Linked DNA regions of Homo sapiens: region 1 is linked to region 2. Evidence: fine-mapped expression QTL. A gene starts in region 2. The other region holds a variant in brackets. All regions are shown on one strand. Distances are between the middles of the regions.

Region 1 (17,153 bases), 20 kb before region 2:
GAATCTCTTTGGTCTAGGAATATTTTTTAGCACTTAAACAGAAGTTCTGCAGACAAGCAAAGTTACTTAATTTGCTTAAACTAAAATTGGCAAACACATTGGACTCTAGAAAGCTTTTTTCTTTTTTTTTTTTTTTTCCTGAGACAAGGTCTTGCTCTGTCGCCCAGGCTGGAGTGCAGTGGCGCGATCTTGGCTCACTGCAACCTCCACCTCCCGGGTTTAAGCGATTCTCTTGCCTTAGCCTCCTGAGTAGTTGGGATTACCGACATGTGCCACCACATCTGGCTGATTTCTGTATTTTTATTAGAGATGGGGTTTTGCCACGTTGGCCAGGCTGGTCTTGAACTCTAGGTCTCAATTGATCCACCCACCTCAGCCTCCCAAAGTGCTGGAATTATAGGCAGGAAACACTGCACCCAGCCTAGAAAGCTTTTTTCTATTGGTACAATTGTAAGTATCTCATTTTTTATTGAATGTATTTTGAGGATTACTGATTTAAAATATTCAAATGTTTTTCATTTTTATCATTCCTAGATTTAGAAAAGATAAATAATTTATATTTAATTCTATCTACCTTATTCACCCCCTTAAAAATCCATTGAATGCCTGCCATGTGCCAGGCATTGTAATTTATACAAATAATGGTATTACTGATCTTTGAGTACAGATTATCTGGCTTCAAACTCAATATTGGTTTTACTTTGCTTTATGCACTTTATCACAGGGGCCTCCATCGAAACTTATTCATAATACCAGATATTTCCAAGGCATTACAGCATGGAAATGTAAAATCTAATTCTAGCTCTTTCCATATTATATGATCTTGAGAAAACTTGCTCTCTGCTCGGTACCTCAATTTTCCTTGTCTCCAATTCTAAACGTAATTCTAAATCTACCAGAAAAGCATCTCTAGGTATTATTCAATAAAGAATGCAATTCAGACAGGAATATAGGCAGGTTTTTTTTTTTCTTTTCATTAATGCATGCTCTATATACATTAAAATTTGCAGATCTTAAGTATACAATTTGATAATATTTATGTAAACATGTATCTGTATAATCGCCATTTAGATCCAAGTGTAAAACATTTCTATTGCCTCAAAGTTTTCTTTGTGCCTCATTATGGTCATTGCCTCTTCCCCCCAGACACAGACATTGCTGTTTGAACTTCTATTACTATAGGTTTGTTTTGTCTGTCTGGAAGTTCTTATAAAGGGAATTATATGCCATATAATCTTTTGTGTCTGGCTTCTTTCACTCCATATAATGTCGCTGAGAGTCATTCAAGTTGCTACCTAGTGTTTTAATGCCAGTAGGACTTCAGTTTCTTAACCTATACAATGAAAGGGATTGGGCTAGATGAACTCTGAAGATTTTTTGAATTCTGAGAATGAGAGGCTCTTTCCACTGTTTTGCAATAATTAACATGCAGGAATTCTGACCTGATTCAGTTGCCATGATACCATGACAATATTGGGAATGACAGCTTTGAATGTGTCATCCAGTGAGAGGATGACATTGCATGTCTGGGCGTGGAACATTTTATGCACCTCTGTAATGTAAGGTCAGAAACTTTTGTAGCTCAGGATGACCTTACTGATTTCTGAGCCCTCCCACATCTAGCATTCTTCCCATGTGACATATTAATTGAATTGTCTATATCACATTTCTAAAAGTCATTGATAAAGAGACTTAAAAGAAGACTTTATGCAAAGCTTCTGCCTAATTATGTCTTGGTAATCTCTCTATGTGTAGTGTTTAGGGGTCATCTATGGGATCAGACAGACTCATATTCAAATCCTGGTGCTTCACTTCTATCTGTGAAACCGTGGGCAAGTTGCTTAAATTCACTGAGTCTGTTTCCTCACCTGGAAATGAGGGTAATGATAGCTACCTCACAGTGTTGTTATAAAGAACTGAATGAGTTAATGCATGCAAAGTGTTCATAGTGCCTTGAACTTGAGTACTGCTCAGTCAAGGACAGCTGTTAGTGCTGCAGCTTCTCAGCAAAATCTGTTATCTTGTGCTCCTGCAATTCCTCACTGAAGTTCCCTTTCTGGGACAGTCCTGTGTGTTCACATTTGCTGGGACAAAAGTGAGTGTAAGCAGTGAGTAGTGAACAGCCACAGGATTTTAATCAATCCTGTGAAGAGGGAAACTTTCCATAGAGAATGAACTGGGGCAGTTAAAAGAGAATGAGCAGTGACTGGAGGATGGAAGCCTTGGGTTCTAATGACTTCCTTAGTCAAGAGAAGTTTCATGACCTTGATTGTGGCACTAAATCTCTTTAGAATAAACTAAATAGTGTAACACTTTTGAGCAGTGATCCCCAACCCCCGGGGCCACAGACTGGTATTGGCCCATGGCCTGCTAGGAACTGGGCTGCACAGCAGAGGGTGAGCAGGGTTTAAGCAAGTGAAGCTGAGCTCTGCCTCCTGTCAGATCAGTCATTAGATTCTCATAGGAGCATGAACGCTATTGTGAACTGTACATGCAAAGGACCTAGGTTGCATGCCCCTTATGAGAATCTAATGATAAACGTAATACACTTGAATCATCCAAAACCATTCCCCCCCCCAACCCTTGTCCACAGAAAAATTGTCTTCCACAAAACCGGTCCCTGGTGCCAAAAAGTTTGTGAATCACTGGTTTAGAGAACAGTTGTTCATTGGTATCTTTGGGGGATTGGCTCCAGGGCCTCCCCCATATAAAAATCTGCAGATGCTCACGTCCCTCATTTAAAATGGTGAAGTATTTGCATATAACTTAGGCATTTCTTCCTGTATACTTTAAATCCTCCCTAGATTATTTATAATACCTAATACTATGTGAATGCTATGTAAATAGTTGTTATACTGTATGGCTTTGAGAATAACAACAAGAAAAAAGTTTGTACATTTTCAGTACATATATGCAATTTCTTTTTCAAATATTTTTTATCTGTGCTTGGTTGAATCCACAAATGAGGAACCCCATAAACATGAAGAACTGACTATATGTGTTTCTGGTTCAAACTCTGTTCTGCCACTTACTCTCAAATCCTTCAAACTCTCCCAAAGGAAGTTTTTCCATATTGGAAAGCAAGATAGTACGGAAGTTAAGAAAATGAGTCTGGATTCAGATGAATTGGATTTGAATCCCAAAGTTGCCATTAACAATGTGTAAAATCTCAGACAAGCTAATTTATTTCTCTATTCATTGGTTTCCTGATCTGTAAAATGGGTTGTTGCAAAGATAAATTAAGAATACTTTTAACAGTGCCTGGCACAAAATAATTAGTCAATAAATGTTAGATATTATTCACAAAATAGGTATCATGCTACCTCTTCAGATTACTGAGGATACTTAAATGAACTAAGGTTAAATGACCAGAACAAATCTTAATTATTATCAACATTGTAATTTATGAAAACATGGCTGGAGATGTAATGAGATTTGAGGCAAAATTGAGATCATCAGGAGAAAATTAATAGATTTACTATTTCTTAAATGGAAAAATAAGAAAAATGAGTGGGAGAAGTTATATTTATGGTTTATAATACCTATGAAAAGAATGCTTTTATTTTTGCTCTGAAGTAGGAAAAACTAAATATAAGTTCTCAACTCAGCCAATAAAATAATAATAACATAGGCAATAATACTGATAACAATAAGTTTAAAATGATATTTTCATGAAGTAAAAACCGAGAGAGAACATGCAATTCTTTCTCAAGTGAGGTCCTTGCTTTGTGGAGCTTCTATTCTGGTGGGAAACACAAATAGTAGAGAAGTAAATAGGTTAACAAAAAGAAGACTTCAGACAGTAATTATTGTATAAAGAAATGAAAATAAGCCATTTCATTAAAAAGCAACTGGTCTTGGGGATGTAGTAGAGGACAATCTGCTTTAGATTTGGTTGTAAAGAAAAGTCTCTCTGAAAAAATAATATCTTAAGTTGAGCTGTGTATAATAAAAAGGAACCAGCCACTCTCAAATCAATGGCAGGGGCTTTCCAGGCACAAGAAGCACCTGCTATAAGATGCTAAAGTGGAAGTGAGCTTGGCACAGTTGAGAGATAGGAAGGGGACTGATCATAGCAGAATATTATAAGTGAGTGGAAGAAACAATAGTACAAGTTGACATTAGAAAAATTTATTTGCAACTTGTAGGCCACAGCTGGGAGTGTGGACCTAATGCCACATGTGAAGTTTGATGGAAAACCATCAGAAGTCTCTAGGCTGGTTGTTTACTTAATCTCATTTATTTTTTAAAAGGCATGTCAGGCTGCTATGTGAAAATCCAGATAGTGGCAAGGAAGCTAATGAGGAGGCCAGAGCAGCAGTCCGTGTGAGAGATGGTGGTGTCGGTTTCTGTGAAGAGATTCATGTTGTAGAAGAAGAGTCAATAGGACTTACTGAGAGATTAAACAGAAAGGGCTCATAAGAATCCTACGTTTTTGGAGATGGTATTGAAGCTGGAGACATCTTCTAAGCTAGGCTGTGGTAATGGAATGTTAGAACTGGAGGGTTGATAGGCTGAAGTCTAAAAAGCTGCATGATAGATATCCTATGCTGAATTTTGCCATTTTTCTTTGGGTGTATGTTTAAGTTTCTGTTGTTATTTTGTTTTATTTATACATATATATATGTTTGTGTATATATACTTAATTTTAATTATTTAATTATGACATAGCTATCGTCAATATCCAGAATTTATATATCTGTAAACAGAGGCAAGAAGAGGCAAAATAACTTATTCAAGTTTACACAGTTAGTGATTAACTATATGACCATTTAAGATATTTATGGACCCTCCATATTGCTCTTCCAAAAGGCTGCACCAATACACACTTTCCCTGCACCATATAAACAATGCTCATCTCCACAAACTCTCCCAGCATTGCTAGTGTTTTTCTTTTTAAGCCTTGTGAATCCAAATTGAATCCTCTTTCTGGTCATTAAGGACTGCGGGCCTTCTCTTTGGCTAATTTTGAATCTTTTGGGAGGGAGTCGGGAAGAGGATTATCAGAGAGAACAAGAAATGAAATAATAATAATAATAACAATAATAATATTGAGAGTTTATAATTGCCAGGAACCATTCTAAGCACTATATACATATATACATGCATATACACACATGTATACATATATATACACATGTATATAAGTATATATGTATATACATGTATACATATATACACATGTATATACTTATATATGTACATGTATATACTTATATGTATACATGTATATATAAGTATATACATGTATACATATATATACACATGTATATACTTATATATACTTATATACATGTGTATATATATGTATATAATACTTAGAATGGTTCCTGGCAATCATAAACTCTCAATAAGTATACTTATTTATACATACATATGTGTATATATACTTAACTTTAATTATTTAATTATGACATAGCTATCATTAATATCCAGAATTTATGTATCTGTAAACTGAGGTAAGGAGAGGTAAAATAACTTGTTCAAGTTTACACAGTCAGTGACAGATGCAAAGCTAGTCATTTACCTGCAGAATCTGTGCTTTTAATCATTATCTGCTACTGACAACCTACAAGACATCTGGTTGGTGAATGTTTCATTTACACAAAGAAAACAGTGTAAGATAGTTTATGTGGTTCAGGTATTAGAAACTCTAGTAGTTAGGAAAAAATACACACAAGCTGAATAAGTCAGTATTGATTTAGTTAGGATTTGATTGAAATACTGAAAGGGAAAAACTTTCTCTACTCTCTGTGTTTCTGTTCAGGTGTCTTCATTATCAGAATATGTGTGGCTTAGCCAGAAAAACCATCATCCTCATTATCACCATCACTACCAACTCCTGAGTGCCTACTATATTCTGGGCCCTTAGCTATAAGCACTGGAGATATTATGGCAATCCTGGAATTACAATCACTTTTAAAAGGGGGACTAGATTAAGTGAAAAGATCCCATTGGTATGAAGTGGTAGAGTCTGTATTCAAACACAGTTTGTCTCTGTCTAACTTTAAAATCTTTACTCTTCCCAAAGTGGTAAATGAAGGAATAAGAAGACAGATTCATAAGCCAAGATGGTGTCAAAGACAAAGAATCACATAGGTTTACAAATATTTAGACAGTAAGCAATAGCAAAATTATCTGGACTTTGAAAAGCAGAGATGAATAGAAAGATCTTGATTCTAAGGCGGGAAGGAGTCACTGGAGGATTTTTGTGGATAGAAGTCACAAAGTAGGATTCGTGTTTGGAAGGAACTATTAATAGTTACCACTTACTGAATACCTATGAAAGCCTAAGAATTTTCAAATATTTAATATAATAACTTTATGAAATAATTTAATCTCACTTGAGGCTCAGAAATTTTAAGTAATTTGCTAATGCTTTCATGGTTGGTAAAGAGTGGATTCAGAACTTAAGATTCTGATCTAATTGGAAAGCTGATGTTCTTGCCTTCCTTGCTAATAAATGTTATAGGGATATAGATCAGACAACACTGCCAGATTTGAGAGTGATGGAGGCTGGGCAATGTGACAGCAGCTGGCAGCAACAGCCAATATCAATTTCATTTCACATGAGGGGACATATAGAAACTCATAGTTTTTCTGGTTGGCTTTTTCTTTATTTTCCTTGAAAAGGCTATAGGTAGTATATTCTGAAATTCCCTGAATTTTCTAGCAGTATGTTGGAATGCTTGAACCCATCTTTCTTTTTTTTTCAGTGTAAGCTTGGCATATGATCAAGAAATATGGTTTTTAAGTGTTTGGGGGAAGAAATTACATCAAAATTGAGAGGTGTTAAAGCTTCAATTGGGTCTTGAGAGATAGGAGACATTTAAATGAGATGTGATGAGAAAATTGATGACTTAAAAGTAATTAATTAGCACATATGGATATTTAGAAGGGGAAAGAAATCTAGGGCAAGAGTTAGAATATATGTGGTTTAGCCTCGACTATGACACTTCCTAGAAATTATGTCCTGAAATTAATTCTTTGGAGCCATCTTTTCTCAGCCACGAAATTCCAGTAAAAATATTTCACAGAGCTGTTGGAGTTATGAATAATTAAGTTGAAAATAATTTTATAGTATCTGGGACTAATATTAATGACAAAATTTTTTTGGAACAGGCAACATCCACAATTTTGAATACATTCTAGGTATTTAAATTTTTAAATGTTAGGAAGACAAGAAAATAAAAAAAATTCCTTGTCAACAAAAATTTGTCATCTTTGGATACTCTTTTAGGTATTGTGGTTACAGACATGTATAAGACATTGAGTCTGCACTGTTAGATACATAGCTATGAAAAGAAAAAGCAGTTCATAATTTAGTAATTAAAATATTGTATTAAATGGGTGATCTAGTTGACACATGTGTCCTAGAGGAGGTTTGAGGAGAGAATGGTTCCTGAAGCCAGGTGGACAGAGAACTTTCCTTGTAGCAGGTGAAACTGCTCTACTTCAACGTTAAGGGAGTAGGCAGATTCCTCAACTGATACTGTGCTCTTGTAATAACATTGCATCATAAAATTGGGAAGAAAATGATGGATCAACTAGTCTTTCTCCCTCATTCTACAGATAGGGAAACTGAGGCTCAGAGAGTGCAATTTTCATATAGCGTAACTTTTTTTGATGATAAAATCAGTACTCAATTCTAAATATATCTGACTTCCAAATCATTGTGCCTCACCACTTTAACCAGTCTATTATTACATTTGTCATAGCAACTGTTATCATCAATGAATGTTTGAGTAGGTAGATAAAAAAAGATAAGTATAGATGGATATAAATAGATATATAGATTTATAGATATGTTTAAAAAGCACAAGCTTGCAGTATTCTTTTAAAGCAACTTTGATAATTTTTCATTTTACTTTTTTTCCAAATTATTATTTGTACAGCTGGACTAATTTCCAGTAAAATTGTTTACTGCAGTTGCATTTTAAAATGTAGTTTGTGTTAACTTTTACCAAACTTTTAATAAAGATATATCCATATCGATGATGCACAATTGACAACTCTTTCCACTGATTATATTTTCTAATTTATGGAGGTAAGTTATGAAGAGTTTACTCCTCAATTTGGCATGCAAGGATTTGGCCACACTCAGTAAATATTCAAAGCAGAATAGTTAGCCAAGATGTTTGCTTCAATATAACATTAGCCGAGTATATTAACTTCCTATAAAGAGGAGATTTGCTAACAGAAAATATCAGATAGGAAAGCCATGAGAAATAAAGCAGGATGAGCCCTTATGATCCGTGTATTGTTTCCTTTGCATTTTGGACTCAAATTTTTTTCTAAGCATGTCTATCATTATTTTTATTCACCTTTGTTACAGTCTAATTAAACTCTGCAATATCACTTTCCCCCCAACTATTCTCCTTTGAGACTTACCCACATATCTGTGTCCAGATCATCCATCTCTTAAGGTTTTTGTCAAATTTTATTTGTCCTATACTTTTTTTTTTTTTTTATCTTTCAGCTAGGAGTAAATTCCCCCATTCCAAATTCCCATGGGACTTTATTTTTTGGCAGTTATAACTTTTCATTTCAAAGTAGGTTACACTAGGGATATGCCTTCTCCATCTTATTATATTATAAGCTCCTTT[A/G]GGGCAAGGTTTGTATCTGATTCATTGCCAGTAACACCCACAGAACTTTGAAACTGATACTAAAAAACTACTGAATCAATGAATGAGTAAAGGTTTTTGATAGAGGAAATGAAAAATGAGAAGTGGATTTTAAAAATGAAGAAAGGGATGGCAGGTCTGAATAACATGTTCAGTGCGGAAACATACAATTCTTCATAACGTGAGAAACATTCAGCTGATATATGACATACCTCAGAGCAATTGAATACAGGAGAAAACATGGCAGGGAGAAAGTGTTCACAATTGTCATTACTGTGATTTTCAAACTCTTTATATATGCCTTTTTCCTTTTCACCAGTTAATCAATATATCAATAAATATGTACATACCTCTTTGCATGTCCTTAGTGTGCTAGATCCTGGATAAAAACTGATGATTTAAAAAGTTATGCTCTTTGAACTTTCAATAAAGGAGAAGGCTGGCTGAAGCACCCTGTTCTCATCTCTGCTTAAACACATAACACTTCTATTTATTATGTATATTATGGTTATATTCAAGGTGTTATTTGAGCACATTTTATTGCTTAAACAGTAAGTTAGATATATTAAAGGCAGAAACATTGTAAGTCTCAGAGAAAGACCGGAAGACTACTAGAAAGGTTCTAAATGAGCAAGCAGAGAGCAAGTTAGGAATGTAAGCCTTGGAACCCAAGTTTGAGATAGACCATGGTTGTAAGACTAAAGAGTTAGAAATACAAATAAAGCTGTAAAATGTGACAAACTATGGGTCTCTGAGTAGCTTGTTAAAGTTTTAGCATAGGTGGGAAGCCACTCAAAGAAGAAAAGAAAGGGTTTAGAAATTAGATCTCAGAGAAGTTCAGCTGTAGAGATGCTAGAAGACATAATAATGATCGGAAAACTTAGAGGAGACAGGTAGAAAGACCAAGGTGAAAAATCCAGTGCTGTACATCATTTGAAATGGTCCTATCTCTGGCTGAAATGGGTAATTGATGGATTCAATGTTTTTTGAGGGGCATTCTGCACTCACTAGAGTAAGGATTTGATTTTTAAAATCAGAGATGAGAAACTGGCCAATCTAGTAGATTATTCAAAAATAAGTGTTGGCTGGGCCCAGTGGCTCATGTCTGTAAATCCCAGCACTTTGGAAGGCCAAGGCGGGCGAATCATGAGGTCAGGAGTTTGTGACCAGCCTGGCCAACATAGTGAAACCCTGTGTCTACTGAAAATACAAAAATTAGCCAGTCATGGTGGCAAGCGCCTGTAGTCCCAGCTACTCAGGAATCTGAGGTGGGAGAATCACTTGAATCCGGGAGGCAGAGGTTGCAGTGAGCCAAGATGGTGCCACTGCACTCTAGCCTGGGCTGCAGAGCGAGACACCGTCTCAAAAAAAAAAAAAAATTGTTACTTGGCTTTTTCTATCAGTACCTATATCCCCTCTAAGTAACATATCAGAGTCCCTTCTTTCAGAATTGACTGTCTGATCACCAAGATAATGAACAAAGCTTTGAAGCTAATTCTGGTTATTAAGCAGAGAAAAGAGTTTCTTTCTTCACTTCTCTATTAACATTTCAAATGGGATGATTTTTTTTTTTCGGGGATAAGGGTTTGTCCTGAATATTGTAGGGTGTTTAGCAGCATCCCTGGCCACTATCCACCAGATCCCATAGCACCTTCACAGTTGTGACAACCAAAAATGTCTCTAGACGTTGCCAGATGTCCCCTGAAGGGCAAAATTGCCGCTAGCTGAGAGGCAATAAAATGGAGCAAAGCTAAGAAAAATGCAAACTGGAGGTTAAACCCATGATATAAAATGCTGTATATGAGATGAGTGTGTTTGTCCCCTGGAATTCAGGGTGATGAAACGAGTCAATCCCCAAAATCGGACATGGTGGAAGATTGAAAAAGAAGCTGTGGTTTGGGAAAACCACCTAGGACCGGGAGTCAGGAGAATATGAATGAGTTCAAGTTCTTCCACTTTCTAGCTATTCTTGAATCAATGACTTCCCCTTGCCAGAGCTTCTTAATAAAATGAAAGGATTTAAATATGCTCTACTAGAATATACTGCAGCCCATTCTAGGTCAAAGGCTATGGTAAGTTTGTGACTCTTCATAAATCTATACTTGGTTCTTTGGGTACTGAACTCTCTCTAGAACTAGACTCTCAAGAAGGCTGAGTGTGTTTTCTTGTCAGAGCCCAACTAACAGGTTTTCTGTCTTTCTTTTTTCCTTGTCTCACAAGGTTCATTTCTATATCCATCCTCACTACTTAAAGAGAAATGGAGGTAGAAAGTGTGATCTGGCAAAGTCAGCTCTTTTGCCCTAAAATGATAGTCATTTTTCCCCTTGGAAAAGAGGCCTTAGGCTAAACAGTTTCTCTGGAGTAAGCACTATTTTTTTGAGCTCAGAAATATAACCTAAACGGGCAAGGAATCAAGAGTAAACTTCCATGGGAATTGTAGAGCCCAGGTCTCTACATACGCCTCTCTTAGAAAACGGACGTCAGAGGATATTCACTGTTTCCTCCATAAGTAGGCTGCCATTTTCCCATTGCATCACAGCTTTAAGATGAGAGATTACTTTGACTCCCAAGCTTTGTTTTCCAGTTCAGCTTCATGCATACCAGCTAATTAGGCAACATGACAACAGGGTGGAGCGATACTTGTATTCTGGATGTTTCCACACCCACAGTGGATTTGGCCTGGTGCCGCTGCCAGCCACCCTCAGAGCAGTGGCATCTTAAAATGCAACCACACCCAGACACCAACAAATTGTATTTTTTAAAGATTCATGTTAATGAAAAATTGTATATTATTGATTAATCTGTAGGCAAAAAAGAAAAGTGTCAGCTCTTTCTTCCCTTTTCTCATCCTCTACCTTTTTTGAAATTTACAGATACAATGAGCTAGCCATGTAGGTGAGTATACGTGGTGAAGGCAGGAGTTGAGGCGGCTTGACCCACACAATGCCAATTTGGACTAACCCAGGCTTTTGGCATATCAGGAACACGGGCTAGCTTTTGCTTGGCGCCTTAGAGCTTGTGGAGTACGTTCATTTACAGTTTAATTATATTTTCATGACAAAACTGATATATAGGTGGTATTATTTATATTTTATAAATAAGAAAAATGGGCTCAGATATAAATAAACGTGTCAAAAATCACACACAAGTTGAGGGGCCCAGTTTTGACCCCAAATCTCATTCTTTTGTCACTCTTTTCATAGCTATTTTCTATGTAACTTAATGGTGGAATGTTCTGGTCTAAGATGTCATCAATTAATTCTGTATATATTGAGTGCTATTATGTTCCAGGTACTGCTACCTGCAGAGGCAATATTTTTATTACATTGGCTGATATACTCGACAAGTACGGTTTAATTGGTCTGCCTTCTTTTTGTCTTCTTGTTTCATTTCCCAGTGTGCCTCACCTCATGAGTAATTTAGGAATGTAATCTGTGCTCACAGTCTTGCTTCAGCTAAATGTGAGGGCTGGAATTAAAACACAGACTTCCTAACTCCATAACAAATATCATTTTGAATACAATCATGACCTTGCTAGAAAGTTAGAGAAATAAGAGGGATTGATAACAGCATGAAAGGACATTTTTTTTTTCAATAAGACATTTCTTCTCTTTAAAGAAGAGAAGATGTTTGAACATTTAAGAGCTTTAAATGAGCTGTTTGGTTTTCTGAACTATTTGAAAAGTTGTCATTTTTTCATGACTCAAGTGACCTGTCAATCCTTCCAGCCACGTGTGGCTATTGTTCATTGAAGGTGAACCAATTCCTTCCAAAGACGTCACCATTTGTAATACAATAAACTGTTCAAAGGAAGGGGCACTAACAAGTAAATGATTTCTCTACCCTGGAGGTTACTAATTTGTACCCTTAAAATTAGGCACGTTTTTTGGCACTTCCCACAAAATATTCAGCACTTCAAGAAACTTAGAGGTGAATTGCCCCACTATGATCTCTTGTTTGATGTAATCAACAGGCTAACAATTAAAAGACTTCTAATGATAGCTAACATTGAGCATTCCCCATGTGCCAAGTATCATCTAAAGGCTTTACAACATGAATGAATTAACTTAATCCTTGTGACAATCATGATTACCACCTCTCAGTTTAGTGGTGAAGAAATTGAGATAGAGGGTTTAGGCAAATTGCCCATCCTCATACAGCAAAGAAGGCAGAATTTGACCCCTGTAGCATTGCTCCAAAGCCAAACACTGAATTTCTGAATTATGCTTCCTTCTCAAGAAGGCTTGGCTATGTATAGCTTGACTGTTACCAATAATAGATGCTTCAGCTCTGTAATGTAATCATCCCGATCTGCTCAATGGTCTTATCAAGGGGATGATACTCATGGTGATTTGCCTGAGGTCAAAGTGTTAGCTTGTCACACATTTCCAAAATGTCACTGGTCTCTGTATGGTGCAGACTGGAGAAGTGATCTCTGTTGACGCACTGTCTGGGTCAGTCTGGAGAAGACAGTCCAGGAAAATCCCGAAATACAGTCATACCTCAGAATAGACCAGGATTGATTTCCAGGACCCCCGCACATACCAAAATCTGCAGGTTCTTAAGTCCTGTAGCTACCCTACTCAATTTGATGTGATAAGTGAGTCCTTGGTATAGGCGGTTTTGCATCCTTCAAATACTGTATTTTCGGATATGCCTTTCGGTGAAAAAACTCTGTGTATAAATGGACCTGCGCAGTTCAAACCTAGGTTGTTCACAAGTCAACTGTACTTTACTTTGGAATTACGGTGTGGGTGTTTTAAAAGGATAACGATCACGCTTCCTCTCCATCAAAATAAATCATGACGTTTGTAGTTGAATCATATCAGGGAAAGGTGTCATTGAGGGTGTAGGCTGCTTATTTTTAAACTTGAAATAACTAGGAAATGCACTCTATTTGTCTTAGCCCTCCTATCTTCGTCTGTAAATTAAAGGAAGGAGGTGTGCTAGATGAATTTCAGTATTCTATCCAGCCCAAAAGATATATATTCACTTAGTTAAAAAAAATTCATTTTTGTTCTTAAAAATAATACCTAATTTGTGCAGAAAATTTATCAGGCAAGAAAAGTAGGAAGAGAAACATTAAAAAGTCATAAGTAATTCCACCCATCAGAGATAACAAATGTTAAGATTTTTTTGAAAACCCATTTCTGTCTCCCTTAACACAGACATATATAATGCTTTAAAAATAGTATGAAATGAATATGATTTTTTTTTCTAAAATTAGGTTTACTGAGATACATTTTATAAAAGCAAAATTCACAGTTTGGGTGTGCAGTTACATGACTTTTGGTAGACAAAATCACTTATGCAACCACCAGCAGAATGAAGATATAGAGTATTTTCGTCACCCCCAAATCTCCCATGTGTACCTATGTAGTCAGTCCCCTCCCCTGATCTCCAGCAAATGGCAATCACTGTTCTGATTTCTGCCCCTAAAATTTGTCCATTTACAAATGTCCTATAAATGGAATCCTAAAGTATGTAACATTTTGTTTCAGGCTTCTTTCACTAAGAATAATTCTTTTGAAGTTCATCCATGTTGTAGCAGGTATAGTATTTCTTTTTTAAAATTCTTGAGTAGAAATTCATCATGTAGATGTGCCAGTTGGTTGACCTATTCATCAGTTGTTGTACATTTGGCTTGTTTACAGTGTTTAGTGATTCTGAATCAGGTCATTATAAATATTCTCTTATGGGTTTTGTATAGACATATGTTTTAATTTCTCTTGAATAAATAAGTAGTGTTAGATTGCTAGGTCATATAGTAAGTGTAGGTAGGATTTTAAAATCCTCTTTTGTAAAAACTTGTTTTAAAAAATATTTTGTTTCATAATTTAAAAAAATATTTGTTTTAAAAAAGATTTACAGGAATTTGGAAGATGGTACAACAATGTTCTGTGTACACTTTACCCAGTTTCCTCCAATAGTTAAGTCTTTTTTTCTTTAGATTTTCTTTGTTTCTAATTCATTTGACTCACAAAATAAATGGGTGCTAACTACAGCAGTTATAGTGATATTATTCACACTACACAGAAGAAACCTTGGGTCATTAATTGATAACATCAAAACCTCATTCACCTACATTGAACTTCCAGAATCTTCTGTACCAACTGCCTAAAATACTAAAAATGTAGAATACTACAAATTAAAGATGAATACCTTGGTAGGCATGAATGACCGAAGTAAAACCAAGATTTATAGAGAGTCAATTAATTAAAAATCTTCCACAAAGAGAAGCCCACAGCCACATGGCTTAACTGACAAATTCTATTAAATATTTAGTGAAGAATTAATGTCAACTCGTCACAAACCCTTCCAAAAAATAGAGGAATACTATTGGGAACACCTACCAATTGATTCTGTGAGGCTAGTATTACCCTAATACTAAAGCCACACAAAAGCATCACAAGTAGACAAGTATGAATAAATATCCCTGATAAACACACACCCAGAAATGCTTAAAAATGCTAGTGAAATGAGTCTAGCAACATATAAAAATGACTGTACACCATGACCAAAAAGGATTATTTTATGAATGCAATGTTGACTTAGCCTCCAAAAACCAATCAATGCAATACACATAACTAATAGGATAAAGAACAACAACAAAAACATCAAAAACAACAAAAAGATCTCTTCAATAGACACAAAAGAGTGTTTGACCAATCCAACACCCATTTGTGATTAATTAATCTAAAAAGCTTCTGCACAGCAAAAGAAACTATCATCAGTGTGAACAGGCAACCTACAGAATATGAGAAAATTTTTCCAATCTATCCATCTGACAAAGGTATAATATCCAGAATCTACAAGGAACTTAAACAAATTTACAAGGAAAAAAAAACAAACAACTCCATCAAAAAGTGGGTGAAGGATATGAACAGACACTTCTCAAAAGAAGACATTTATGTGACAAGCAAACATGAAAAAAAGCTCATCATCACCGGTCATTAGAGAAATTCAAATCAAAACCACAATGAGATGCCATCTCATGCCAGTTAGAATGGCGATCATTAAAAAGTCAGGAAACAACAGATGCTGGTGAGGATGTAGAGAAACAGGAATGCTTTTACACTGTTGGTGGGAGTGTAAATTAGTTCAACCATTGTGGAAGACAGTGTGGTGATTCCTCAAGGATCTAGAACCAGAAATATCATTTGACGCAGCAACCCCATTACTGGGTATATACCAAAGGATTATAAATCATTCTACTATAAAGACACATGCACATGTATGTTTATTGCAGTGCTATTCACAATAGGAAAGACTTGGAACCAACCCAAATGCCCATCAATGACAGATTGGATAAAGAAAATGTGGCACATATACACCGTGGAATACTATGCAGCCACAAGAAAGGATGAGTTCATGTCCTTTGCAGGTACATGGATGAAGCTGGAAACCATTATTCTCAGTAAACTAACACAGGAACAGAAAACCAAACACTGCATTTTCCACAATGGTTGAACTAAAGTACCCTCCCACCAACAGTGGGTAAAGAATATGAACAAACACTTCTCAAAATAAGACATTTATGTGGCCAACAAACATATGAAAAAAAGTTCATCATTACTGGTCATTAGAGAAATGCAAATCAAAACCACAATGAGATACTATCTCGTGCCAGTTAGAATGGCAATCATTAAAAAGTCAGGAAACAACAGATGCTGGAGAGGATCTGGAGAAATAGGATGTGGCAAATATACACCATGGAATGCTATGCAGCCATAAAAGAGGATGAGTTCATGTCCTTCCCAGGGACATGGATGAAGCTGGAAACCATCATTCTCAGCAAACTAGCACAGGAACAGAAAACCAAACACTGCATGTTCTCACTTATAAGTGGGAGTTGAACAATGAGAACACAGGAACAGAAAACCAAACATCACACGTTCTCACTCATAAGTGGGAGCTGAACAATGAGAACGCATGAACTCAGGGAGGGGAACAACACACATTGGGGCTTGTCAGGTTGGGGGTGTTGGGGGCAAGGGGAGGGAGAGCATTAGTACAAATACCTACTGCATGCGGGGCTTAAAACCTAGATGACGGGTTGATGGGTGCAGCAAACCACCATGGCACACGTATACCTATGTAACAAACCCGCACGTTCTGCACATGTATCACAGAACTTAAAGTTTAATAAAATTTTTTTTAAAAATACAAAAATTAGCTGGGCGTGGTGGTGCACCCCTGTGATCCCAGCTACTCAGGAGGCTGAGACACGAGAATCACTTGAACCTGGGAGGCAGAGGTTGCAGTGAGCCAAGAACATGCCACTGCACTCCAGCTTGGGCAACAGAATGAGACCCTGTCTCAAAAAAAAATTGTGTAGTTTAAAATCCACTTATTCTATCATAGAACCAGATAGTAGCAGCTCATTTAAAGGATCTGTAAATATAAGCTGTAATTTTTCTGCCATCTCCAGATGAACACTTCCTTGATTTCCAGTCAGATTTTACTGTTAGAGAGCTGTCCCTTTCAATGGAGTCATACCTGTCTCTAATTTCAATCAGGTTCTACCTG
Region 2 (16,476 bases):
TTGCTTTTGCTTTTATTTTTTTCTCATTGTTTCAGGTGAAAGAATAAAATAGTTTCTGTTATTCCATTTATGCCAGAAGCAGAAATCATATTTATAATTTAAAAATAAACTGATGTATTCCTTAACCCACACCTCAATTTGTGTTTCTATTTTCAGGATGTAAAGCCGGCATATTAATATTCTCATTTCCCCAATTAAAGCCTTCACATTATTTGATTCCTAATAAAATTATAAAAGCTATGTCTTCAAGCAGCTTTAACATTGTTAAGAAAGGTGAAGGACATAAGGAAAAGACAGAATCTTGATTTAATAGACTTCTATCTGATTCTGATTATCACCACTTATTATTTGTGTCTATGGGGAAGCTCCTATATCTCTCTAAGTTTCAGTAAATTGAGAATGATAACAATGATACATGTCCAGCCTATTCTACAGGCTGATCATGAGGACAAATGAGAATGCATACAGAAAAACACGGATAATTTGTAAGCATTTTACAAGTGTTAGTATTTACCTTCATCACCAAGACTAGTTTAAGTTCATTTTTTGCTTTCAATCCATTGATGTCTTTCAATTCTCTTTATTTTTCTAAAGATATACCTCTCCTTTGGACTCATTCCATATTTTCCTTTTCTTTCATATCCTAGTGTCACTGAGTTGGTGTTTAAAACTCTGTTGAATATGAAAAAAATATATCAGAACATGAGTCACGAGGCCTGAGTTCCTGTCTCAGCTCTTCCATTTATGGCTAATAGATTTGAGACAAATTAGTCAATCATGCAGATCTTTAAACTTCTCATCCATGAAATGGAAATAACACCTTCTCTCTCCTTAATTTAAAGGTGAGGATCAGCTATATAAAATAAACAGAATGTAAATATTTAAATATTAATACACACATATTGTGTGCAAACTGGTATTATACAAGTTATTCTATAACTATGCACTATTAGGCAATAAATTATACATAAAATTGCTCTATAATAATATAACAAACAAATGCCTTTAGTAATGCTAATAACTGTAAGAAGTACTTAAATAATTTTCTATACAGTTTTTAAGTACTTTTCCCAGCAGCATAACAAGTATTTTTTATCTAGAAGAGACAGAAAAAATAGTCCCTGTACTGTAGACAAAAGACAGTTATTACTTTTTCCAGGGTTGTTTATGTGGATGGCAAATAAATGTCCACTATGTATAGTTTCTTGCTCAGAAATATGAAAATTAAAATTTGACCTCTCAGAGGTCAGAGATTCTATCTGTTTTTTTTAGAAGTTTAACATTGGGCTCTAACACAGTGCTAGGCAAATGCAGGCATTTAGTTAATATTTGTCATATTCACCTGGAGAGTATTATGGAGCTCATCTGGAATACCATAATAATTTCTTAACCTTGGGTTTAGATTTTTAAATTTTTAAATCACATTTTAGTGAGTTGGTCCCACGCCTGAGAATTCCCTGATTTTAGAGTTATTACTCATTCGCTTCTTCCTTTTTTTTTCTGTCTATTGAATCAAGGTTGTGGTGTGACACAATGGTTAGTGCTGTTTAACTTGGTACATTCTTAATTTTTAAACCTTACAACATGGATTTGAGTCTCAGCTTGACCGCTTACATGCCATGTGGCCTGCTGTGAGTCACTGAGCCTCTCTACGTTTTTGTTACCTTCCTTTTAAACCAGCCTTCTTTCTTAAAGCAACTGAGATGAAATAAAACAGTAATTGTGGAAATTTGTTGTAGATTATAAAGCGGAATTCATCTTTTTGGGTTTTTTTACTCATTCATTTATTGATTTCACTAAAAATATCATTTATCTAATTGGAGAGATAGACAAGTCAACTGACAATTTCAAGACTGTGTCATGAGTGCAAGGTGTGGAAGTAGTAATGGCACCGGGTACTGAGGGGCAAAGAGTAAGAACACTCTATTAAGGGTCAGGAAGGGAGCCTCTGGGAACACACAGTCTAAGCGGAATCCTACAAGCAAAGATATAGAAGTAAAGGAAAAGATCATCCTACAAAACAAAGAAGCAATATGTGAATGCTTTAGTAATGGGAAACGTTATCAAGTAAACATTTTTGGTGAACGGTATTTGGGTTAAAGCAAGAGAAGTCTGGAAGTCTGTCTAGCTCTGTTACACACATTGCTGGAGGACATCAAAATGTGTGCATTAAAGCCCTTGAGAGTACAAAAGATAAAATCTATACAAAGGAGCCAAAAGACTGATAACAAATGCAATATGTGAACTCCAACCTGAAAGTTTGTTAACCAGTTGGCTTTCTACTTTATCTAATGGCAAAGATTATTTCTTCGACCAAACTTTAATCAAATTCCTCTGAACCCTCTTTTTGACTGGGCCTTAACCTTGGCCTATGAGAACTGCAAATTCTTAGCCCAAATGATGATGTCTACCTCCCTTTGTACTAAGAGGCTTGAACAAATGTTACCACAGTTTCTAATACCTCAAGAACATGTTCCTGATGACCCAGCCCCTGCTTAAGTTCCTATCTGAAAAGCTCAATGCTACCTAAATAATTTACTATTTACCTGACTGTAGACCCATGACCTCCCATTTCTTAGAGCATTTACTTTAGAAAACTTGCATCTATAAATTAGCAAACACAAATGGCCTAACCACAATGACCAACCTTCCCTGACATCTCCTTTAGTACTTTTCCTTTAGCACATGATATGGTTTGGGTCTGTGTCACCACCACATCTCATGTAGCTCCGATAATTCCCATGTATTGTGGGAGGGACCTGGTGGGAGATGACTGAATCATGGGGGCGAGTCTTTCCAGTGCTGTTCTTGTGATAGTGAATAAGTCTCACAGGATCTGATGGTTATAGAAGTAGGAGTTTCCCTGCACAAGCTCTCTTTGCCTGCTGCCATCCATGTAAGATGTGAGTTGCTCCTTCTTGCCTTCCACCATGATTGTGAAGCCTCCCCAGGCATGTGGAACTGTAAATCCAATAAACATCTTTCTTTTGTAAATGCCCAGTCTTGGGTATGTCTTTATCAGCAGCATGAAAACGGACTAATACAGTAAATTGGTACCAGGAGTGGGGTGTTTCTGAAAAGATACCCAAAACCGTGGAAGCAGTTTTGGAACTTGGTAACAGACAGAGGTTGGAACAGTTTGGATGGTCCAGAAGAAGACAAGAAAATGTGGGAAAGTTTGGAATTCCCTAGAGACTTGTTAAATGGCCTTGACAAAAATGCTAATAGTGATGTGAATGATAAGGTTCAGGCTGAGGTGGTCTCAGATGGAGATGAGGAACTTGTTGGGAACTGGGGCAAAGATGACTCTTCTTATGTTTTAACAAAGAGACTGGTGGCATTTTGCCCCTGCCCTAGAGATTTGTGGAACTTTAAACTTCAGAGAGATGATTTAGGGTATCTGGCAGAAGAAATTTCTAAGCAGCAGAGCATTCAAGAGATAACTTGGGTGCTCTTAAAGGCATTCAGCTTTTTAAGGGAAGCAGAACATAAAAGTTTGGAAAATTTGCAGCCTGACAGTGTGATAAAAAAAAAGAAAATCCATTTTCTGAGGAGAAATTCAAGCCAGTTGCATAAATTTGCATAAGTAGCAAGGAGCCTGATGTTAATCCCCAAGACAATGGGAAAATGTCTCCAAGAGATATCAGAGACCTTTGTGGCAGCCCCTCCCATTACATGCCCAGAGGTTTAGGAGGAAAAAATGGTTCTCTAGGCCAGGCTTAGGGTCCCTCTGCTGTGTGCAGCCCTGCGTTGAAGACACTCCAGTGGCTGAAGGGGGCCATGGCTTGGGCTATGGCTTCCGAGGGTGCAAGCCTGAAGCCTTGACAGCTTCCACATGGTGTTGAGCCTGTGAGTGCACAGAAGTCAAGAACTGAGGTTTGAAAACCTCAGCCTAGATCTCAGATATATGGAAATGCCTGGATGTCCAGGCAGAAGTTTTCTGTAGGGGTGAGGTCCTCATGGAGAACCTCTGCTAGGGCAGTACAGAAGAGAAATGTGGAGTAGGAGCCCCCACACAGAGTCCCTACTGGGCACCACTTGGTGGAGCTGTTAGAAGAGAGCCTTCATCCTCCAGAACCCAGAATAGCAGATCCACAGGTAGCTTGCACCATATGCCTGAGAAAGCCACAAACACTCAGTGCCAGCCTGTGAAGGCAGCTGGGAGGGAGGCGGTACCCTGCAAAGCCACAGAGGTGGAGTTGCCCAAGACCATGGGAACCCACCTCTTGCATCAGCATGACCTGGATATGAGACATAGATTCAAAATATATCATTTTGGAACTTTAAGATTTGACTGCCTTCCTGAATTTTCGACTTGCATGGCATCTGTAGCCCCTTTGTTTTGGCCAATATCTCCCATTTGGAACAGCTGTATTGACCCAATGGCTGTACCCCCATTGTATCTAGAAAGTAACTAACTTGCTTTTGATTTTACAGGATCATAGGTGGAAGAGACTTGCCTTGTCTCAGAGTGTGGACTTTTAAGTTAATGCTGAAATGAGTTGAGACTTTGAGGCACTGTTGGGAAGGCATGATCAGGTTTGAAATGTGAAGATATGAGATTTGGGAGGAGCCAGGGGTAGAATGATGTAGTTTGGCTCTGTGTTCCCACACAAATCTCATCTTGTAGCTCCCATAATTCTCATGTGTTGTGGGAGAGACCTAGTGGGAGATGACTGAATCATGGAGGTGGGTCTTTTCTGTGCTGTTCTCATGATAATGAATGAGTCTCTTGAGATCTGATTGTTTTAAAAATGGGAGTTTCTCTGCACAATCTCTCTTTGACTGCTACAAAGATGTGACTTGCTCCTCCTTGCCTTCCACCATGATTGTGAGGCCTCCCCAGCCACGTGGAACTATGAATCCAATACACCTCTTTCTTTTGTAAATTTCCCAGTGTCGGGTATGTCTTTATCAGCAGCATGAAAATGAACTAATACAGCACACCTCAGCATTAAAAAAGCATCCTGCCTCTGGTTTTAGCAGAATTGAGCTTGGTTTCTACTGGAGTTTCTTTTCTCTATTGGAATAGCCCAGATAAAGTGAGTCTTGCCACTTTTAATAAATATTCAGCTCTGTTTCTCTTTAACACTATTCTACAGGATCATAAGTTTAATGTACTGGTTACTTAAAGAGAAAGGAGCCTACATAAGACTGTATTTTCAACCGTATAACTGTGTCTATACATTTTTACACAGTTTGCATGTGACTGGGTCAATACATACGGTGAGTGTATTGTTTGCTATGGCTGCCGCCACAAAATACCACAGACTGGGTGACTTAAACAACATAAATTTATTATATTTTCACATTTCTGGAGGCTAGAATTTCAAGATCAAAGTGACAGCAAGTTTGGTTTCCTCTGAAGCTTCCTTCTTGGTTTGTAATGGGCAAGTTCCCACTGTGTCCTCATGTGGTTTTTCCTCTGTGTGTGCATCACTAGTGTCTCTTTTGTGTGTCCAAATTTCCTCTTCTAGTAAGGACATCAATCAGTTTGGTCTAAGGCCTAACCTTATAACCTCATTTTAACTTAACCACCACTTTTACTTATCTCCAAATATAGGCACACCCTGAAGTAGTGGGGTTTAAGGCTTCAACATATAAATTTTGGGCAGACAGAGTTTAGCTCTTAACATTGAGTACCTGAGACACATTAGTTACAGTTGTAGGCAATGTGGTTACTACGGTGTGTAGTGTTTAAGAAGCTGGGCTCTGGAGTTTGAATGCCTTTATTACATTGACTGTGATCATTTGCAAGATCACTGCTTACAAGCTGTATGACCTTGGAAAAGTTATAGAATCTCACCAAACCTCAGTTGCTTTACCTGTAAGAATAAAATGATACTTAATCTTTATATTTATTGTTGTACCTAAGTGCATGAAATGTGTTAGCAAATTTTATTTCTTTACAATTTTTTTTTTTTTTGAGTTGGAGTCTTTCTCTGTCACCCAGGCTGGAGTGCAGTGGCGTGATCTTGGCTCACTGCAAGCTCCGCCTCCTGGGTTCATGCCATTCTCCTGCCTCAGCCTCCTGAGTAGCTGGGACTACAGGTGCCCGCCACCACGCCTGGCTAATTTTATTATTGTTAGTAGAGACGGGTTTTTCTTTTAGTAGAGACGGGGTTTCACCATGTTAGGCAGGATGGTCTCGATCTCCTGACCTCGTGATCTGCCTGCCTCGGCCTCCCAAAGTGCTGGGATTACAGGAGTGAGCCACGGTGCCCGGCCTACAAATTATTTTGTAAAGATAATCTTTTTCTAACTTTGCTATAAATCTAACAGTTTCATTCTTCCCTACTGTAAACACACACACACACACACACACATATTACACATATAAAATTTGCAATGCTTTTTTGCTAAAATTAGGTAGACTTTTTTTTTTTTTTTTGAGAAAGAGTCTTGCTCTGTCGCCCAGGCGGGAGTGCAGTGAAGTGATCTCAGCTGACTGCAAGCTCCGCCTCCCAGGTTCACGCCATTCTCCTGCCTCAGCCTCCCGTGTAGCTGGGGCTAAAGACACCCGCCACCGTGCCTGGCTAATTTTTTTGTATTTTTAGTAGAGACGGGGTTTCACCGTGTTAGCCAGGGTGGTCTCAATCTCCTGACCTCGTGATCCGCCCATCTCGGCCTCCCAAAGTGCTGGGATTACAGGCGTGAGCCACCACATCCGGCCGGTAGACTCTTAGGTACTTCAGGATTAATTTGTTATGATTTATTGAAAGACTGTAGCTCCTCAAACCTCTGTTTTCTATTGTCAGGATAAATCCTAGGAGACTTTAAAATGCACTAAATTTTTGAGTGATAAACAGTGTGGGGCCATGGGTCAGGGGTTCAAGTAATATCAGCTATAGGGAGAAGCTGATTGTTGTTTCTAAAATAAAATATAACCCATATGAAAATATTAATACAATTAAAAATTAGACATTGAAATTCCTGTCTTCTTAATCCTAATCTAATAAAAGCAGTAATTATGTCTGTAAATAGCAGGGTCTATATACTCAGTAAACAAACAATGCCCATCCCATTCTATTATTAGATAAAATGAGAGGCTTATCTCTAGTTTCTTAGTCTTTCCAGACAAACAGAAAGGAATTCCTACAGAGAGAGTGAAGTTAGTTGGTAATGCAACATTACCAGATAAGAAGATGAGTAAAGGCTGTTTTCCAGTTAGTGTCTTTTACAAAGGAGAATATAGGCCGGGCGCGGTGGCTCATGCCTGTAATCCCAGCAGTTTGGAAGGCCAAGGCGGGTGGATCACGAGTTCAGGAGATACGAGACCATCCTGGCTAACACGGTGAAACCCTGTCTCTCCTAAAAATACAAAAAAAAAAAAAAAAAAAAAAAAATTAGCCAGGCACGGTGGTGGGCGCCTGTAGTCCCAGCTATTCCGGGAGGCTGAGGCAGGAGAATGGCATGAACGCTGGAGGCGGAGCTTGCAGTAAGCCGAAATTGCACCACTACACTCCAGCCTGGGGGACAGAGTGAGATTCCGCCTCAAAACAAACAAACAAACAGGAGAATATAGACATGTTAGATTGATGGGGGAAAATATTAGAATTATAGAAAAGAAAATAAAAAAATAAAAAAGAAATTATTTCATCTTTTAAGATATATTAGAATATATAAATTTTACTCATGGTCACAACATACCTCTTTTTGCCCAAGTGATTGTGTATGTGTGTCTGTGTGTGTGTGCATGCATAGGGCTGTATCTAGTTTAAAGCACTGTAACGTCTGGATTCTCTTTTTTTTTTTGAGATGGAGTCTCGCTGTCTCCCAGGCTGGAGTGAAGTGGCGCGATCTCGGCTCACTGCAAGCTCCGCCTCCCGGGTTCACGCCATTCTCCTGCCTCAGCCTCCGGAGTAGCTGGGACTACAGGCGCCCTCTGCCACGCCCGGCTAATTTTTATGTTTTCGGATTTTTAGTGGAGACGGGGTTTCACCATGTTAGCCAGGATGGTCTCGATCTGGATTCTCTTTGAACGGTATAAAAGTCTGTGAGATGGCCGTGGGGAAACTCAGAGAAATTAAAGGTATAAAATGTAAGAAAGTGTCAAGGCTGAGATGACCATCCCAGCTAGTTCCTACTGCAGGTTTCTTTTATGACACCAATTTTGGCTGGTAAAGAAAAGATAATAACACCTAATTGGCTGCCTCACAACACTGCATAAACAAATCAAAAGAGCTAATGAATGGCAGGTTGTTTTGAAAGCTGTGGAAGGTGATCTAATCATAAAAGACTATAGTTATTTATTAACTATTATCGTCATCAAGGCTCCCTCTGTGTAGAAAAACAGAAGACTTTAGGAATGATATGGTAACTTTATATTTTGGAAATAACCTTTGTTTGTAGTAACATTACTGATCTACAACAATCTTTATAATTTTCTCATTTCCTCCCCCTGTATCAGTATCCTTCAGATTCTGCCAACCTCATAAATGCGTAAGGTTGTAAAATTCATAGTTTTTATTATCTAAGCCCACTCATTTCTAATGAGAGGAAAAAAGTTTCTACATGTTTGATGAATAATTGAAAGAGTTAAAAACAAGGATGATATTTTGAGTTAGAAGAATACCTTGATAACCTAACTCTGACCCAAACCTGAGTTCTCCAAACCTTCAATCCCATTCATTTAAATGTAATATTCATGGTGATTTTCAGGAATGAGGAGTAATTAACAGAGCATGTGATGAATCACCTCTGGCTTTACAACATTCCTAAAATGAAATGGAGAAGAAGCCCTAATGAAATGAGCCAGCTGATGAGTACTTCCAATTTTGGGGGTGCTCACTGAATCTTCTTTTTACTACTTTCTCCATTTGGAAAAGATATCAGTTTCAAACTTTTTATTCATCATTTCAGAAAAGGCTGGCATCTCTGAGGAGCTCTTTTCCAGTAAGAAGGAAACCAATGTCTTCAATGTTTCCTCATAGTAGAGATTCCTAAGACAGGCAATCATCTTTTGGTTCTTCTGTTCCACCCTAGCACCACTTCCACTCCTGGGAATATTCTCCATTTGGGCTAGGCTAGGGGTCACTAGAGCATAATACACAGTCATTGATTCCATTTTAAGGCATCAAACTCTTTTACCGTCAATAACAGAATATATGGTTGGGACACATTTCGTATGGTCTGACAGGGCAGATGAAAGATAAAAAATTAGTATTGATATGTGAATATTTAGAAGAGGCTTTTAGAGAAAGAGACAAGAAATCAATGCTGATTGAAACAGAGCAATGGTTTTCGTTAAGTTTTAACAGGTGATGTTTCGATTTGTTTAGGCATTATGGTTTAAAATACAATTAAAAGGGAAAAAGAGAACATATATCGTTATAGTTTAATTTCACCTCAAATTGTGTTGGGGTAGTTTTTCTATGCTGAGTAAATATAAATCTATTGGTGAAATCCACAGTCAACAGATGTTTACTTTTCTTGGTATCTTAGAAATTATCTAGTACAACCACGTTATTATAATTATGTAAAAATGCAAGACCAGCTATCATTAACTATCAAGCTTATCACATAAACTTGATAATTGTTCTAAGCACCTCTCTCTCTCACACACACACAAACACACACGCATTATATATATGATTTATCTCTAAACCTCTTAGCACTAGTACAATGTACGTGTTATTATTTTTATTTTACATATTAGGAAACTGAGGCTTAGAGAAAATAAGTGACTTGTCCAAGGCAACATGGCTAACAATTCAAGATTTGGACCCATTTCTAGCTTGCTTCAAAGCTGGGTTCATTTCTATCCCTACATAGTTGAAAAGACTACATAGAATAGAAACAGATTTCTGAAACCCTGTCTCATTCTCTTTCCATTAAGCTATGATGGACTTTGATTTTCTAACCTGTAACAATAATGGAATTTGAACTTGCTTTCCGTGGTCACTAATTTTACTATTCCATTGGAAAGGAGCCAAGCTACAACAATAGTGCAGACCTTGAAACCAATGATTTTATATATATATATATATGTGTGTGTATATATATGTATGTGTGTGTGTGTGTGTGTGTGTGTGTGTGTGTGTATATCTTTTTTTTTTTTGATGGAGTTTTGCTCTGTCGCTGAGGCTGGAGTGCAGTGGCGCCATCTCAACTCACACACCCTCCGCCTCCCGGGTTCAAGCAATTCCCCTGCCTCAGCCTCCAGAGTAGCTGGGACTACAGGTGCGTACCACCAAGCCCATCTAATTTTTGTATTTTAATAGAGATGGGGTTTCACCATCTTGGCCAGGATGGTCTCGATCTCCTGACCTCATGATCCGCCAGCCTTGGCCTCCCAAAGTGCTGGGATTACAGGCGTGATACACTGTGCCTGGCCCAGTGATTATATTTTTATAGGAAATAAATTATTTCATGAGAGAAAAAAGAAAGGACGTATTATCTCACTGTGATAAATCTCATAATATTGGCATACTCCCTAAGTTGGGCAACTTTGATCAGTTTTCTGGAACCATCATAAAAAGGCCTTTAATTGGATAAAGTCTCGAACTTTTCTTCTGTGGATGTGAATATCTTGAGAAGTACTGGAATGAAACAATTTGGCTCTGGTTTCAGTCATCTTCACATGTTTCTTCAGGTGCTTTCTTAAGCTATTAGGGCAAAATAAGCTGGTAGAAAAAAGGTGTTACTTGTAGGATGAAAGAAGCAACTAAAGAGAAGAAACTTTCTCTAGAAAAATGTTACATTTACACATTTATAATTGTTAACAACTTTTTTCTTCTTTTCTTTTTGGGAGACTAAATAATGGGATGATACAGGAAGAAATATGATTTAGAGAAAACTGATTGAGCCAAATTTTTCAAACGGTAATATGGGTAATCATAGGCTATGGAAAGTTAAACTGAGTCTCCAATGTTTATGATTATGATGTTTGGCTAGGATATAAAATAAGGCTTCAGAATATAAAATATCCTGCAGATTGAGAAGTTTTAAAAGTAGTTACATACAAGTTTTATTTTTCCAACGTTCCTGCCTTTTCTAATGTCTAAGGATGAAGCAGTGTACAGAGAGGAAAGAATGTTATATGTGTGGTCTGCTTGCAAGTGCTGGATGCCTCCTCTGCCTGCTCCAACTAAACTGTCTGCTTATGAGAAAGTCATTGCTCCTCTGAGTTCCTGCCTCCCTATATATTCAACATTAGAATTTTGCCAGGTTATCTTTTAGGGTCGTTCAACTCTAACATATATATGAGTCTGTGACACTGAACTCAGACACTTCAGAACAGGAACCCTGGATTTCTCTGGATGTGGAAATCTTTAAATCTATACCTGACTGGTAGGACAACCAATCTGTCTTCCTTTCCTCTCCTCTCCCACTTATGAAGGGAGTCCAGTCAGAAACATGTTTGTCTACGAGGTAGTATATCTGGTATTTCTGAGGAATTCGGTTATTATATAGGATTATAGAATATTCAACTTTGAGTAGGGTCTGTGGACTCCATCAATTGCGTTCTGGGGGAGGTACCATGAAAGAACATTCCTACTTTAGAAATAGATATTCTCTGTTCAAACCTGACACCCTGACAGGATCCTAAAGGATGGAAGCTAAAGTGGTGTGGTATATAAGTCCCATGACCTTGAACAACTGGTTTTATGTGGGTGTCACCAGTGCTTTATAAAAGTAAACTGCATCGCCCCGAGTTCAGTCATACTGCACCAGCTGAGCAATGCATGGAGTGGACCTGTAGGCGACTTGCATCGTCTTCAACATGAAGATAGCCACAGTGTCAGTGCTTCTGCCCTTGGCTCTTTGCCTCATACAAGGTGAGCAATTTGTGTGTAATCTAAGCCTCTTGCCACACATCTCAAAGCCCTGGGGAAGGGACTTTTCTCCCCCTACTCCTGCCAAAAAATGTTTACGTATGCATGTATAATCCTGAAATGTCTTGCCAGACACAGAGTTCTGAAGATTTATATATGTGGCTTTATAATTATGTTGTTATCTTTAGAAATGGCAAGTAGTTTGAGATAATCTGAATTTTCTAACCATGAGAAATTCTTCCATTAATTCTTTATTAATTCAGAAAACTGAATAGATTCTTCTTCATCTTCCTCTTGCTAAATGTATCAATTCATAATGCATATTCTTATATATGTAATAGACATTTAAAACTTAATTGTAAATAATATATGTATTTTAATGTTATAGGTATAAATGAAATATTTTTTAAAATTCAATCATCTGTTCTTATTTTAAAGCAGTGGTATCTTCTAGCTTATTTTAGTCTTGTGTTTTCAAATGCTAAATGGGTTGAAAGCATTTCTCCCAAAGAGTGAGGGACTTTTGTGGGAGCTGGAAGGTAGATTTTTATATTTGCTATTTAACCCTAAGAGAACACAAATTGCCTAGACTTACGTTGCTCTGAAACATTAAAATTTTTAAAAAGAGAAACTCATAGATAGTCTGAAATCATATACAAATAATGCCCATTTTCCTAAAATAGGTGTGTAGGTACAAAAGAGCCTATGTTAATGAGAGAGTATAATAGCCTGTGACCTTAATCTTACCTTCTGTCAGATCTCTAACTTTTGCAGCTGTAATAAGGAGGTAGAGCTGCCAGAATTCAGAAAATTAAATTTTATGTATATATCCTATAAATGTAATGCTATATTATAGTTTCAACTATAATATAGTTTCAAAATTATAATTGGTATAGTATTTTGTGTGTATGTTATATTGTAATTTTAAAAGGGAGGCTGGCATTTATTACTCCGAAAGGACCTTTTGAAGATAAGCTATTTTGATGGGGTTAGAATTCACATGAGTATTATTTTCCAAAGTAATTGTAACTTTCTGAGTGATTAGACCTTTGTGAGTATATATACTAATCTCCTGGTCCAGTGCCCTTCTTTTATTTGCCATGATAAATCTTAATGTGTTCAAAAACCATTTGCGGTTTTACAACATATTGTCATTAAAGCAATCAAGATGCTGCATTAAATGGATTATTTGTTTTGTTTATTAAATATTTTACATTTCCTTAACTTTGGTTTCTATATTTTCATCCCAGATGCTGCCAGTAAGAATGAAGATCAGGTTAGTCCTGCTTTTTCTGTTCATTGAATTCATTCCAAGATTCCCAAAGAAAAGTGGTTTGTGGCCAACACCTTCATGTTAATAATACAAACATATTATACTGGTAGGTACTAATAGCTTTTGTTAAAAACACAGAAACAGATTTTTATGAATCAGGACATGAGCCTCTCTCTCACACACACACACACACACACACACACTCAACATATTAATGATGATGGATGTCTGCAAGAGGCAATTTATCATGTTAAAGGAGCATTTTAAAATTTCATAAACAAAAAATAAATCAACTGGAAAACTACTATTGTTCCATTTAACATCTCAACAAGCCATGATACACCACATAGGAAGCTGAAATAAATTTTCTAGTAATCATTATGCAAAAGAGGGTGGTCTGTATCTTGTATATAGTCGGTGTATATAGTTCATGTAATGAATATTTATTGAGCATCTCTTAGATGTCAGACCCTGTTTGAGATGCTGGGGTTATTTTTAAGTAAACAAAATAGATGAAATTCCTGCCCTGAAAATTACGTTTTAGTGTAGGAAAACAGACAAATTAATAAGTAGCTTAGCAAAACATATGGTACGTTAAATAATGATAAATGCTAGGAGAAAAATAAATCAGGAGGCATAATAGGATCCCTGAGAATGGAGGTGGTATCCATTCTCATAAGGATAATCAGGGAAGTTCTCTCTGGACAGACAGTATTAGAATAGGAATCTGAAGGTCATAAGGGAATGAACCACGAAGGTATTTGCAGTTTACAGCAGGCCAGACAGAAGCACCTGTGAGCGCAGAGGCCCTGACGCAAGAAGGTGCTTTACCAACTCTTAAACCTCTTTTGTTTGATAAATTAAAAAATCATTTTCTACTAGAAGTTAAATTTTTTAATCTATTTGAAAGATAGGATGACCAATTACTCACACACACACATTTTATATATTTATATACACACACACTGCTATGCATGCTATTAATTCAGCACTTAAAGCACAATCTTAAATGTTTTGCTGAATATGTGGCAAAATTTGTTTTATCTCTGGCCACGAACATTAAAGGAATAAAAATGTGAAACAGCTATTCTTTACGTTGAAACTCTGAGAACCATGGTTAAAATACTCTCTTGCCGTATTTTGTTGCAATGATTTTTTTTAAAGAAACTTCTTACATGAGTGTTCTAGAGAATTTTATCATGTTCTCTACTATTTCATCTAAGTTTACTGATAGGGAGAGGTCCAGAAAGTTCAGTAGAGTAGAAAATAAGCTAGACATTTGGGAATCAGAGAGCATGCTCACTTGGAAGTTTTATACTGGGAAAAAAGAAGGATATTATATAAATATCATTGTGTATAAAACCATCATTTTCTTTTTCAGAGTCCGTGATGATGGTTGGTGATTTATGGCAGATACTGTGAATTTTACACTGCTATTTTTCATAGCATTAACCTCTATTTCACTGAAAAATATTTTAAAAACAAATTTAGTGACTTCTTATATTTGGTATTAAAGGCAAGAACACAAAGAAGTAATTATTTATTTGGAAGCCTTTCTAATCAGAGTTTTTGGATACTGTGTCAGAAATGAAAACTATTGATGTAGTCTTTTTTACGATGCTGTGATTTTGGTTATTTTCCAAGTTTAGTAGCTTGGGTTCCTTTCAGCATGATAAAAGCATGTTAAATGTCATAAACATGAACCTAAACAGCAGGGAAAAGCACTGCAGCAATCTGCAAGGATCTTAAGCATGCTTAAATTTGTCATCACCTAAGAGTCATTCTTCAGGCAAAAGCAAGCTGGTCAGTGCTCTAACACTGAGATAGGGCAATGGCAGCTCCTGGAGGGTTTTATTATAATATCTGGAGATGGACAATAGAAGACAACAAATTAGGCCTCAGCCAGTGAGGGAAACAGGAAGAACTTGGCCCTAGAGGGCTCCAGTTTTCCTGGGACATGCTGAGAAAAAGAGAATAACAGCAACAGTAACAAAACAAAACAAAAACAGGCCAGGGACTGGAAGTTACCCTGCAAGTAAACAGGTGCTGAAAAGTCATCTACTCAACTCAGGATGACTTTTGGTCTAAATATGCTTCTGTTTCAACCCTCTCTATTATGGTCATTGAAAGGGTATTCCATTTTGCTCAGAGAAAAACTCAACTGCTGCTTTCCATTTTTATGGTCTTTTCCTGTTTCCCAAGAGAATACATTGGATAATTTCATAACTCAGAAAAATAGCATTGAATCTCATCTTAACTAATTAATCACTGTGAACAAATTTCTTAACCTATTATTTGGGCCTCTGATGCTCAGTTTGTAAGAAAGGGAGTCTTTCTAGGAATTAAGTTCTCATCTAACAGTGATATTGGAGAAGTCCAATTTAGGGATTATTCTTATTGATGCAACTCTTTAATTTTTCTTATAAGTAGAGACAAGGTCTCATTATATTTCCCAGGAGGATCTTGAACTTCTGGCTTCAAGCAATCCTCCTCCCTTTGCATCCAAAATTGCTGAGTTACAGCCATGAGCCACTGCACCTGGCCTGATGCTACTCTTTTATGATAAGCTTTCAAAATTATTTAGAGCTTTATTCCAGGATTATCATGAGTCGTCTATATACTTTCTATAAGACTTACTTAATAAGGGATATATTTTCATTACAAAGACCCCAGGCTCTTCTCTGATTCTACTATATGGATTTTAGGATCAATTATATTCATCAAGGTAAGCATAACTTGCAAAGTTGGCATTTGATACTGTAGAATCAGAGATCAGACAGGTCTCAAGATGCCCAGTTATTAATCTGTGTCCAGAAATTACTACTCTGCTACTCTGATGGAGTCACTGTGTAGCTATAATAATCTTAGAGATATTTAAGCATGCCATCCTTAGCTAAATTTCCCAGGGCTGGTCTGTGATATCGTTTAGTTATTCTCCTTCACCATTAATCATTTTGCAAGTGCTACCAACTGCCTACCATTTTTAAGAGGCTAGATTAAGTACATCATTATTCATCCAGGCAAGTATACTTCTGTTCTACCTAATGCTGTATCTATGTCACCTAGCAAAGTATAGTAATCCAATAATAAGTGATTGCTGGCTCATTCAATGATGATCATAAAGATATAGGAGACTACTGGAGTTCAAGACCAGCCTGGGCGATGTAGTGAGACCCTGCCTCTCCAAAAAAAAAAAAAAAAAAAAAAAAAAAGAAAGAAAGAAAGAAAGAAAAAACAAGCACAAAACACCAGATATAGATATAGGAGCCTAAATAGAAACCTTTAATAAATTTTTTGGAACAGGTTGTGTTTGTCAGAGTTGAAGCAAAAGCTTTGTTTATTTGTTTCCTGATACAAGCAACTTGAAGCAGATTAAAAAAAATCAAAACAAAAAACAACAAAAATCCCCTTAGATTCCAAAGGCCT

Alleles and levels. Alleles are on the strand shown, and positions count from the first base shown. SD is a standard deviation of normalised expression in the study named.
For the expression in thyroid of the gene that starts at base 11,661 in region 2, G is the low allele of the variant in region 1 and A is the other (large effect, 0.86 SD a copy in GTEx).

Evidence for each region. PIP is the estimated chance that this variant, and not a neighbour inherited with it, causes the effect. A credible set is the group of variants that fine-mapping cannot tell apart.
Region 1: its variant is the best candidate, but not a certain one, in a credible set for the expression of SPINK5 in thyroid (GTEx, PIP 0.51).

What each region holds. Positions count from the first base shown.
Region 1 is chr5:148,031,855-148,049,007 of GRCh38, forward strand. No RefSeq gene overlaps it. Among named protein-coding and RNA genes, the nearest start is that of SPINK5, 24 kb to the right of the region's middle. The variant A/G (reference allele first, on the strand shown) is at 8,607.
Region 2 is chr5:148,052,320-148,068,795 of GRCh38, forward strand. SPINK5 (serine peptidase inhibitor Kazal type 5) reads left to right here and starts at 11,661. Exons shown (of 33, transcript NM_006846.4): 1 at 11,661-11,780; 2 at 13,028-13,053. The coding sequence starts at 11,726.